Linked DNA regions of Homo sapiens: region 2 is linked to region 1. A link means that fine-mapping ties the variant in region 1 to the expression of a gene that starts in the linked region. Tissue or cell type: whole blood. Region 1 holds a variant in brackets; the other region holds the start of a gene. All regions are shown on one strand. Distances are between the middles of the regions. Region 1 overlaps MACROH2A1 (macroH2A.1 histone). Region 2 holds the start of MACROH2A1 (macroH2A.1 histone).

Region 1 (5,371 bases):
CAGGGATGTCATTCTGTTGCCTTCTTTACCAAGGAGCCCCAGAATCCAAGACTCTTCCTTTTTGCAAAACCCCAGCTCATCTTTTATCTGCACAAGCCAAAATTACTGCCTCTCCATACTCCTACCACCATAGGGTGGGCCCTCAGCCCTGTGGGTAGGGAGGAGGGAGCTGTGTCAAGTAGGGATAACAAAGAGGGGCACAGATCCACCTTCCAGCTAGTTAAGCAAGAGCTTTATCTTCTGTTTACTCTTGCATTTTTTTCAGATGGATAGTTACCATAGTAACCCCATCGTTAAGGGACACACAAGACAGAGCACCTCAGAAACACACCTTTTATGAGAAGTATATTCAGTGTCCCACCCCTCTCCTGTGCTGCAGCAGCAGAGGGCCGGGGCATTTCACCATGGCCAGGGAAAATGGAGGGTGCCCGACTTAACAAAAGCAGTAACCCAGAATACACACTCATCCCCTGCCAACCATCAGTAATACTCACCCTCTCATCCTTAGTCCAGGTTTAGAAAAAGCCATCGTAAAGGGCTTTCCTGGCTAAGAAAGAGTTGCCTGCTGCAGAGACAGCAGAGGTGCAAAATGCCAGCAACTCAACAAGATGGAACGGTTCCCATCTGCTCTCCAGGGCATGTTCCTATTCAGGGGGGAGCGGAGAGGGTGACTGACTGCTGAGGAATTGGGACAGGGCACACGTCACCAAAGGAGATGTCCTGATGTAGTTTTCTTCCCTGTAAGTGATCCTCTGCTTTGCAATAATATGGAGGGCAAAGTCATGGAGGCCCCAGGCTCAGGGCTGTACAGCAATGCCTGCCTGCCCCCCATGCACACTGGGATGGCCCTCACATTCCCACCAGCAAGGAGGGCTTTCTCCTAGGCTAGAACAGAGCCAACTTAAGCCTCTGCCTCAAAGTGAATGGAGCCGATGCCTTCCTACAAGGGGGAGGGTGGGTTCTTGCACTCAATTCATTTCATGTTTTGGAAGGTTTTGTGAGTCTCTGTTTTGTCTGTGGCTGGTCTAAAAGAAAAGCGATTCTGAGAAAGATAACCAGGAAAACACCAGATCTATGGACACAAAAATCCTTTTCTCCAGAGTTTCCAGAGCTCAGCCCTTGGATTCTCTCTTGAAGGAAATTTTCAGGAGCCACAGCCTGGAGGCTGTAACCAAAATAAATGGAATCCATAAGAAACCACAGGAAGAAACGGAAAAGAACAATTAGGAGAAGAAACAGAACCCCTTACCAGGTTCTCCACCCCATCAAGCCAAGTATTCTCAGTCGGTGACAGTCTAAGTTTTGTTACCAATGACCAATACTAGACTGATTTGGGGCCCAAGGCGCTTAGGGTCTGCTCTGAAGAGGACTGTAAGTGTGGTAAAGTTCCCAATTATAAATGGTGCAAAGGGAACAAGTTGAATGGTGAGCAAACTGGCCAGCTCATTAACTCTTCTAAGATTTTTGTTTTTCAAAACACATAAGCCTCTGGTTCTCACTCCTGGCCAGGGCCAGTCTCTGGCAACTAGTGAGTGGCTGGCACCATCATCTGTAGTGGCCTAGATGATGCAACCATATTCCCTCTCCTCAGAGCTGCAAGCCCTGCAGGGACATCCTGGGCCAAACGTTCCCCAGCTTCATTGAACATGACTGTTTTAAGGCCGCTTGACAAAATTCCCACATCCTTGGATAACAGCATGGTTTGGCAGCCTTTTTGACTACAGACCAGCCGTCTGAACATGAATACCTTTGACAGGTCTACTTTGCAAGTCCACCCAGAGACGAAAGGCTTAGGGTCCTTTTTCTTTTTTCCAAATGTCTTGAACTAAAACATATCTGTTGTATTGAAGCATTTTGTCTATCTTCCTTCAGCAAGATGAAGTCATGGTTTGCAGAATTAGACTCCTAACAGCTAACAGGTGATGTGTTGAGGCTGAGCCAAACTCTAAACACAACCCTTGCAATAGGAAAGAGTCAGGGGCTTTAACGGAGCTGTCTGAAGCTCTGTAAAACAGAGCTCATTTAACAAAAGAAATACTGAAAATAACAACCAGAAATCAAAGAAAAGCAAATGTTCACGTAATCCCAAGGAGAAAACATGTTTGCTACAAGGCCAACAACATGACAAGGAATCTGTTTATTGTATTTCTTTCGATTCATCATCCTTCCATCAGCAGTCCTTTGAGTTCAGAACTGTTTTACACCATCCCAGAAGGCCTTAACCCAATCAACCCCAATCGGAAGGTGACTGCTAAGAGCTTCCTGCATTCTGACCACACCACAACCTCCTCCAATTCCCTTGGTGGCTCTGAGTGTTTGCAGCCGCATCCCAGAATCCATTGCCCCCATCCCACCTTTTCAGGAGGTTGAGTGGCAGGGTCTGAAGCTTGCCCAGCCATCAGCTGGGAGCTCTGGGCCACAGCAAAGCTCTCCATCTGCTTGTCCCAGGGGCCTCAAAGGAACCAGAATTCCATAGAGAAAATAAAACCTACAGCAGTGATTGAAAGTAGTATTCCAAAGATGGTTCCAAGCCTGACACAAACTCCTCTACTGTTGTTAAGCCCACTGCAGACTCCTCCGAAAAGTCCAGGAGGAGCCAGGGGTCTCAGAGACAGCATTTGGTCCAGTCTTCTGCCTTCCCACAAAGTCTCCCAATAAGATGGAAATGCAGCTTAATTTGGGAATCTGTAAAGTAAGTTCCACTGACTGGAACTTTCAGCCCTATTTCAAAGTAAAAAATAAATAAGTTTACATTATACATAATAACACAGGGGAGCTATGATTCTTAGCAAACATTACCTTAATCTAACCCACCAACCCAACTCAGTGCCCGAATATCTTCCTTGTCAGGAAGTTTTCCTCTGCCTTCCTCACCTCTGGTGCTGTTTCAGCTGCCCGCTCTGTCTGCAGGGGAGGGCAGCAATCGCAAATGGCACTGTGGTGAGAGCCCGGGGTCTGCTGACAGACCGTCGGGGTTTGGATCCCAGCTCCTGTAATTATCTGTAAGATGTGGCCAAGTGCATCTAAGCCTCAGTTTCCTATTCTGTACAGGGGGAGTGATACCTGAGGTTACCTCTAGGCTTATGAGATTAATGAGTTACCAAGTAAAATGCTTAGTATACTCAGTAAATTCAAGCTACTACTGTTGAGGCTACAACTGCACTGTTAAAAAAGTGCGACAAGCTTGATTACCAGGAGAAAACTGCACTTC[C/T]TTTGCCTCGATTTCCTCTATCTATAACTGGATGATTTCGATGGATGGATTTGTGCCAAAAGGAGGAAAAAAGCAACAGAAAACCTGGTGTTTCCTCTGCCAATAGTTTACTCTTTGCTGTTATGCTTAACAGTTAACATATGTTTGAAAAATGCACTTGAACTCGATTAACCTCGGTGCTGCCAGACCTGCCTTGATGGAACACAGCACCCAGGGCGCCCCCACAGGCATCTCTACCTTGGAATGAGGTCTGGGGCTTTTGTCTGACCACAGCAGAGCGTGCAGAGCCAGTGGCTCAGGCAGTAGAAGTCAAGGCCCTGGGAAGGAGAAGGTGCCTGGGGAGGCCCTGAGAAACCTGTTCTACTCCAAGGCCTGGCTGGCAGCTGGGCAGGACCTCTGACCCACCAATCACTTGCTGTCAAGGACTCTCAATTAAGTTACAAGGAAATGGTTAATATGTATGTTTGTTTTGATAGGGAAAACCACAGCCATTTGTTCTTAATTCATCTCAGGAAGGGGTGAACAATCAGCGATGTCTGCTGAAATGAAATGATTTGAAGAGTATAATGTAAAGAGGAAACTCATTTAAGGAGCCCTGTCATGGTACGGTTTCCCAGATGGACTCAAAGCGAAAGAGCGAGGAGCAGAACAGTGAGTTTCGTGGGCTGCACTGTGTTGGGGGAGGAGGCGACGTCTGCAATCGGGCTACACATGTTCATCAAGACAGGGGAGCAGCTTCGCCCACTGGGAGCAGAATCAGGGACTTGGTCAGAGGGAGACGTTTTGCTCTACTCCCTTTTGTGCTGTTTGAATTTATCTTCTGCATATTTTCCTTTCAAAATGAAAATAATTATAACACTGGATAGATGAGAAGCTGCAGGCACTTCTGCTATCGGCTGCCCCAGCTGGCCTTTGGTACCACAGGTCACAAGCCCCCTTACCCTCAGACACTCTGTCCCAGCCTGCTTAATCCTGCTTCTCCCAAAAAATGGTTCTGAGCATGCGAAGACTTTCTAGGTTCTTTTTTCATGGCTGTTTTTAGAGCAGTGTGAGTGTGTCATAGAAAGGGAGGCCCCTGAGAGGGCACTATAGCTCCTGAGGTCTTTACCAGCCTGGCCTCTGTGCTGTCTGCCGGTGTGGATTCCCGATGCTGAGGACTGCTTGTCTAAGGATTTGCCTAAGCTCCAACACCTAGGATTCCACCTCCTCTTCGCTAAGGGGACAATGAAAGGACATTGGCCAAAAAGCTTCCCACTCTCCAGCCCTCCTCAGTGCCACTGAGTGACACAAGCTCCCCATACCTGACTGGGCACTGCCCTCTCCGACGCCTGCTGTGGCTCCTCAGGGCAGCTCTCTGCCCAGTACCTCGCTTGCTCTGCCACTGCTACAGCAGCAGCTCTAACATGCACCAGACCGCCCCTTCCCGGCGGGCCAGCACATGTCACTCCAGGGGACTTCGCCCCTCCTGTGCTCACACCCACCTCCTGCCTGTGCGCTCTAGACTTTCCTCATCCCTGTCCAGGGCTGCCTATCCTTCAAGGCCTATCTTGCAGGACCCCTGTCCTCCCTGCCCATACGAGGCCACAGGAATGTCTCTGGCAATCACCCATGACTGTTGCAGAGTCTGTCCCCTCAGGCTGTGTCTTCATCGAGCCAGCCTTGGGGACCGGGCATTTACCAGTCTTCCTGAGGTGTACGGTGGCTGCTTCAAGACAAAGGAAATGCCAAGTGGATGAAGTGCTCTGGGGTCCAATTCCTCTGACTGCTAAGGTTTCTGTGCTGTGTGATTTTGGAGAAGTTACTTAAACTCTGAACCTCAATTTACTCCTAAGAAAGCTAGGTGGTTTGAGGATTCGATGAATTACCAAATGTAAAGCATTTAATCAGTGCCTAGCACACAGTAACTGTTCAACATACGGCAGATGTTTTGGAACTTAACTGTTCCACCTTTACCTAGAATTCAGAGCACTTCCCCCGAAGTCCCTAAAACTAGTATTACAAGCCACAGTTAGAATATGAACTAGAGACTGCCAGGGCCTGGGGTGGGAGTGAAAGGGCAAGAAAAACAATGCTACTCAAGTTAAGTACCCTCATTTTCTGAATGAACAGCAGATATTGACTTTTAGCAGTCAATACTCAGATTTATAGAGGCAACATAAA
Region 2 (5,371 bases), 23 kb after region 1:
AACTCTTAAGATAACCAGTCTCACGGAAGGCTATTTAGAGAAAAGTTAAAGTGTGGGCTTCACAGGACAGGACTCTGATAAGGCTTAGCATGTAGAATCCACTCATTATTTGCCGAGTAGACGTGTTCCCAATAAGAATAAAAAGAACACCTGATCCTGTCTCTCTCCTGCTCAAAACCCTTCAGTTGCTCTTAGGATAAAGTGTGGGTCTGACCAGAATCCTTTGTGATTTGTCCTGTTTGTCCCTCCCTGAAGCCTCACCTGACTCCGCACCAGGACTCAGCCATCCCGAGCCTCTGGCAGTTCCCCACATGACCTCTGTTCTTTTCTTCTAAGATGCACACATGGGGTTCCCCAGGCCTCAAACACTTGTCCCCATCTGCCCTCCTTTGCCCAGCCATCTCCTGCTTGACCTTTCCAAGCCAGATAAGGGCTCACTCCTGGCTAGGTTACTGTACCTGCTGGGGGGCTACGTGGGGCCTTTTGCACTGATTTTACAACAGCTACTTGCCTGCCTTCTCCCAAAGTCAGCTCCCCCAAGGTAGGGGCTAGGCATTTCTTAATCACGGCTGTGTCCCCAGTGCCTGAACAGGAGCTGATTCTCAGGAAATCTTTATGGAAAGACTCTGAGACACTGACCTGACAGGTTTGGTCCAAGCAAACAAGCTATACAACTCTTTGGAATGAAGAGTTGACTCACTCAGGCTCACTTGTAAGCACTGAGGCAGGGCCCAAAAGACCTCTAAACCTACAGAATATGGGAAGGACCCACAGAGATCTGGGCCCCAATCACTCCTGCCCCTTCCCAGCCCATGTTCTAGGAATGGGGCTCTGAAAAGGCTGTCACAAATCCTTGGGGACACTCAAATAAAACCAGAGGCTGTTGCAGTTCTGATGAACAACACATATAGAGTCTTGTTGGGTTCTTCGGCTTGAGGTTTTCAGTTTATGCTTTTATTTAAATAAATCTCCTTTAGGTGACTTGGGGCCGCATTAGCTCTGAAGGCAGGTCCCAGAACACATGCCCTCTGAGCTTCTCAGTGGGGAAGGAATGCGAGGCGCTCCTCAAGTTCGCCTCTCTCAGGGACCAGAAGAAACATCAGATGGAGATGTGTCACTCCCTGACACTGGCCCATTTGGTAAAAACTAAACCAGTGGCATGGTTGTATACTAGAATGTCACATGTGAAGTTCCAGACAATTCTTAAAGTTTAATAAAATGTGAGTTAAATTATGCCTCCTTCTAAAGGCCTGCCTCAAACAATTTTCATTTAGACAACCCTCTTAATGCCTTATCTAGGGATCAGCATTAACAATGGTGACAGATCGAAGCCAAAGAACAGACTGGAAAGATTTCTCTCTCCTTGTAAAACTAGAAGGGGGAAGAATTTGAAGTCTTTCAAGAGTTTTGTTGTGTTTAAGAAAAAATAAGTTTGAAAACATACTCATCCTCATCAGAGAGTCTCTTGTGCAAGACTGAGATGCTGCTGCCCAACTCTAGTTAAATGTGTACAATGGGTATTAATTCCAGTTGCAGGCAAGAGGTGTCCATTTCAGAGTTAACACCTCTGACAACAGGCTAGTAGCCTAAAGGTGGCCTGCAGTAGGTGAATTCCACCTAATTTACAACTCGAGTCTCCCATTCAAACCTAAGACTGTTAAAAAATGCCCGACTCCCTGGAGCAGGGAGCTTTGGAACAAAACACTTCCCTTACCCCCTACTTTAACGGTAAAACCTCAAACCACAAAGGTGGAAGAAAAGAGGGAAGCTAGCAGGAGTGCCCCCTCTAATTGTCTATTCTTATGTGCTGTTTACTGGGTCATTAAAATCTTACAAGGCCTTTATAGTCATTGTAATTGTTGAATTCAAGGTTTGTCCCAGTTGTTTGTACAGAAGTCTCTCACTTTGAAACTCAGAAACATTTCCCCTAACATCTTGTCTAAAAGAACCTTTCAAGCAATGTACTGACCAACTCCTTGAGTGATCTGTGGCCCCTGCAGGAGTGGGGGTAGGGAGCGCCATGTCGCACACCTGTTGTCAGGTGACACTGCCAGCAGCATCCTGCACACTCACCTCCCCACTCCACCCCACCCCCAGCGAGGCTCTTTCCTGCTGGCCTTCTCCACCCGGGGAAGCCTACAGCCTTCCGGAGTTACCTTTTAAAAAAAGCAAACCCTTCCTACCACAAAGCAAACAAAAGGCTGATACCGAGACAATCGGGAGCAGCGGGGGTTCCCGTGGCCCCTCTCCAGCCCATCCTTGGACCACTCCCCAACCCGGTCCCCCGCACCAGCCCGGCTTCAATCCCGCGAGTAGCCCCCGCCTTCCCCTCCCTGCAGATAGCGAGCCAGACGCCTACACCTCGGCCCCCCGGGGCTCGGGCCCGACTTATTGTGCCGGGGCCGGCAACTCGCGGGCCGGCGGGGGCCTCACCAAGTACAACTCTGCTCACAGCAGCTCCCGGGTGCCCAGGCCCAGACTGCCTAGCCAGCGCCGCGGGGCCTCCTGCGGCCTCGGGCCTGGCCCGTGAGCCCGCCCCAGGAAGGGTCGCCAGGGTAGGCGCCAGCACCGCTTTTTTCCCACAAAAGCGCCCAGGCGCGGGCAGGGGGATGCGTTTCGAAGAGAAGTTGGTTTCCAGGTTTCTTTTTTGAACAAAACCAAAGGGAATCCCGCGCGGCCCGACAAGGCCTGGGAGGACGTAGTGCACGCGCGAGGACCCGGCGTGGGCCACACCGAACCCGGCGGCCCGAGCCCGGCCCGCACCACACCGGTGCGCGCCAGGCCGGGCCGCTCCCGGGCACCCGCGGCCGGACCCGAGCGGCGGGGACAGGGAGTGCGGCAAGGGGGCCCGCGCGGCACTTACGCGGCGGCTCGGTGGCGGCGGCGGCAGCTGCAAGGTGTCTCGGCCTGAGCCCTCCTGGCCGCTCGCGCCTTTTCTCTCCGCGCTCCTCGCTGGCCCGCCCGCCTCTTCGCTTCCCGCCCGCGCGGCCCGCGCTCTCCCCCTCCGCCCGGCGCCGCTGCCGAGTGAACTGGAACCAGTCCTCGCGGCCGGCTTCCCACAATGCACAGCGCGCCGCTCGTCACATCCCTTCGCGGCCCCGAGCGTCCGGCCTCCGCGCCCGTGCCGCCCGGCGCCCCGGCCTTGACCCCGGGCCCGCGCCCTACCCGTTGACGCCGGCCGCTCTGCGCCCAGGCACCAGCCCGCACCCCGGACGCGAGGTCTGACCCATGACCCCGGGGACGCCCAGAGCCCAGTCCTTGGGAAGGGCCAGGCCCCTGGAGAGGAGCTTCTTCAGGGCGCGTCCCAGACTCTGCGTCTCGAGTGAACGCCTACTGTGTGCCTGGCTCTGAGCACGGGACTGTCGCTGCCACGGCATCTTTAGGAACCTTCCCACTAACCCAGTGGGAAGGCACAATGGCTGTTACCAGCGATCGCTCTTCCCTCCCCAGTCAATGCCAACTCCCCCCTGCCCCGCCTCAGAGACCCCGCTGTCTTTAGATACAGGCCACCGCCAAGCCCTGGTCTGCCCCAAGATCAATTACTGCGCACCCGGTTCCCCTGGGGTCCTTCAGTTAATCCTCCTCACCCCGAAGTCTGGAACCTGCCTTGCACATGGAAGCGGTTAGCTACTTCGCTTCAGCAAAAGTTCACTTTCGGACCCAAGTTGGGAATTACTAATGTAGACAGTGATTCCTTATCATCACACACGTTTTTTAAAAACTGCGGACAGGCCGAAAGAGGAGGAGCCGCCACAAAGCCCGCCACGTCTTCCTAAATTGGTTTACCGCCTGAAGGCATTGGTGCCCCATCCCGGGTACTTAAATGGGGGCCTGCCCTCTACTCCCCTCCCTCCAAAGTGTGGAGCCGGAAGCCACTTCTCCATCCAGCTGTGAACTAAATTTGGATAATAATACACATCCCTCAGGGTTGATGTGAAGTTTAAAGTGCCGCTACTGGGGATTATGGAGGTAATTAGAGACCCCCACCCCCACCCCCCAGTCCTCAGGCTGCGCGGGAATCGCAGCGGCAGTAACCTCCACCTCACCGGGATGCTTTACACCTTACTTTAAGAGTTTGCAAAACAATGTCCAATACCTGCCATTCATGCATTCGTTAATTCGATTAAGTACTGAGAACGTATTTTGTGTCATACATCGATTTGGGTGCTGGATATGAAACAGCCAAGAGAACAGGCAGAAATCTCTGCCCTCCTGTAGTTTGCAGTCTCGTGGGGGAAAGACAGACAAACGGGAGAATGTGTCAGAGGGTCTCCATGGGGTGGAGAAAAATAAGGCGGAGAAGGGGAATAGGAAGTGTGAGATAAGAGTGAGGCTCAAATACAAGAGAAGGCCTCTATGAGAAAGTAACATTTAAAGCCTGAAGAAATTGAGGGAGCAAGCCGTGTGGATGTCTGGGGAAGAACTGCGCCGAGCATGAGGAATAGCAAGTGCAAAGGCTGGGGTAGGAGTGTGTCCAAAATAGTCAAGACAGAGCGAGTGTGAGGTTGGAGTAGAATGGGTGAAGGGGAAAGTAACAGGAGATGAAGCTGGAAAAATGATGATGCTTATGATGCTTCTGGTCCCAAAACAAAGCATTATGGTTCTATGAGGATCTCCCGAAGAAAAGATGTCAGGAAAGGTGCAGAGACCCTCCCCCACACACCACATTGTTGTTCCATCCTTCTCTGTGCCTTTGGGCAAGGACTCTCCGTTCTGTAGGGACCACCAGGTGGAATTAAAGTCTACACTCCTCCAAGAGCTGATCTTGGGGCGGCCCCACCTCCATGCCCCTCTACAGCGTGCCATTCTCATAGAACACACTAGGACCTTTGTCCTCTGGAGCTGTTCAGTGCAGCAGCTCTGACCTCATCCTTCTCCAGAAGCCTCCACCTTCTCTCCCCTCTCTCCTCCTGCGCTTTGTGTGTCCTGTTCTTCCACTTCGGTGACCTGTCTCCTCCCCTAATCTGGCTCAGAGAGGGGTACCAGCTGCTGCTGCTGCTATTGCTTCTTCTTCTGTTAAAGGTTTTTTATTTTTTTCCAATGACAAAGCTATGCTCATTCTGAAAACATGAAAAATAAAAATGCTCAAAAAATAAAACTCACTCTACATTCATTGCTAGGAGAGAACAGCCTGCTCCCATTCCAGCCTTTTTATCTATATCCACTTAACATTAAACATACAGAGTTTCTACTCTATTTAGTGATTGTCACCTGCACTTTAAACTTAATGGTTCTTTATGAGCATTTTACTGGGTAGTTGTTCTACAATAACATTACTGGAACTGTTTGGGTTTCCCTTGACCCTCTTAAAAATTACTGAGAACCCTGAAGAGCTTTTGTTTTATAGGTTACATCTATCAATATTTGCTTT

The links. PIP is the estimated chance that this variant, and not a neighbour inherited with it, causes the effect.
Region 2: it holds the start of MACROH2A1, and the variant in region 1 is the best candidate, but not a certain one, in a credible set for the expression of MACROH2A1 in whole blood (INTERVAL, PIP 0.85).

Annotation. Positions count from the first base shown.
Region 1 is chr5:135,373,665-135,379,035 of GRCh38, forward strand. All of the region lies in intron 2 of MACROH2A1 (macroH2A.1 histone), which reads right to left. Among named protein-coding and RNA genes, the nearest start is that of MACROH2A1, 23 kb to the right of the region's middle. The variant C/T (reference allele first, on the strand shown) is at 3,212.
Region 2 is chr5:135,396,199-135,401,569 of GRCh38, forward strand. MACROH2A1 (macroH2A.1 histone) reads right to left here and starts at 3,033. Exons shown (of 9, transcript NM_138610.3): 1 at 2,864-3,033. RefSeq lists silencers at 2,369-2,428, 2,739-2,908, 2,919-3,378 and enhancers at 3,279-3,784, 3,785-4,290.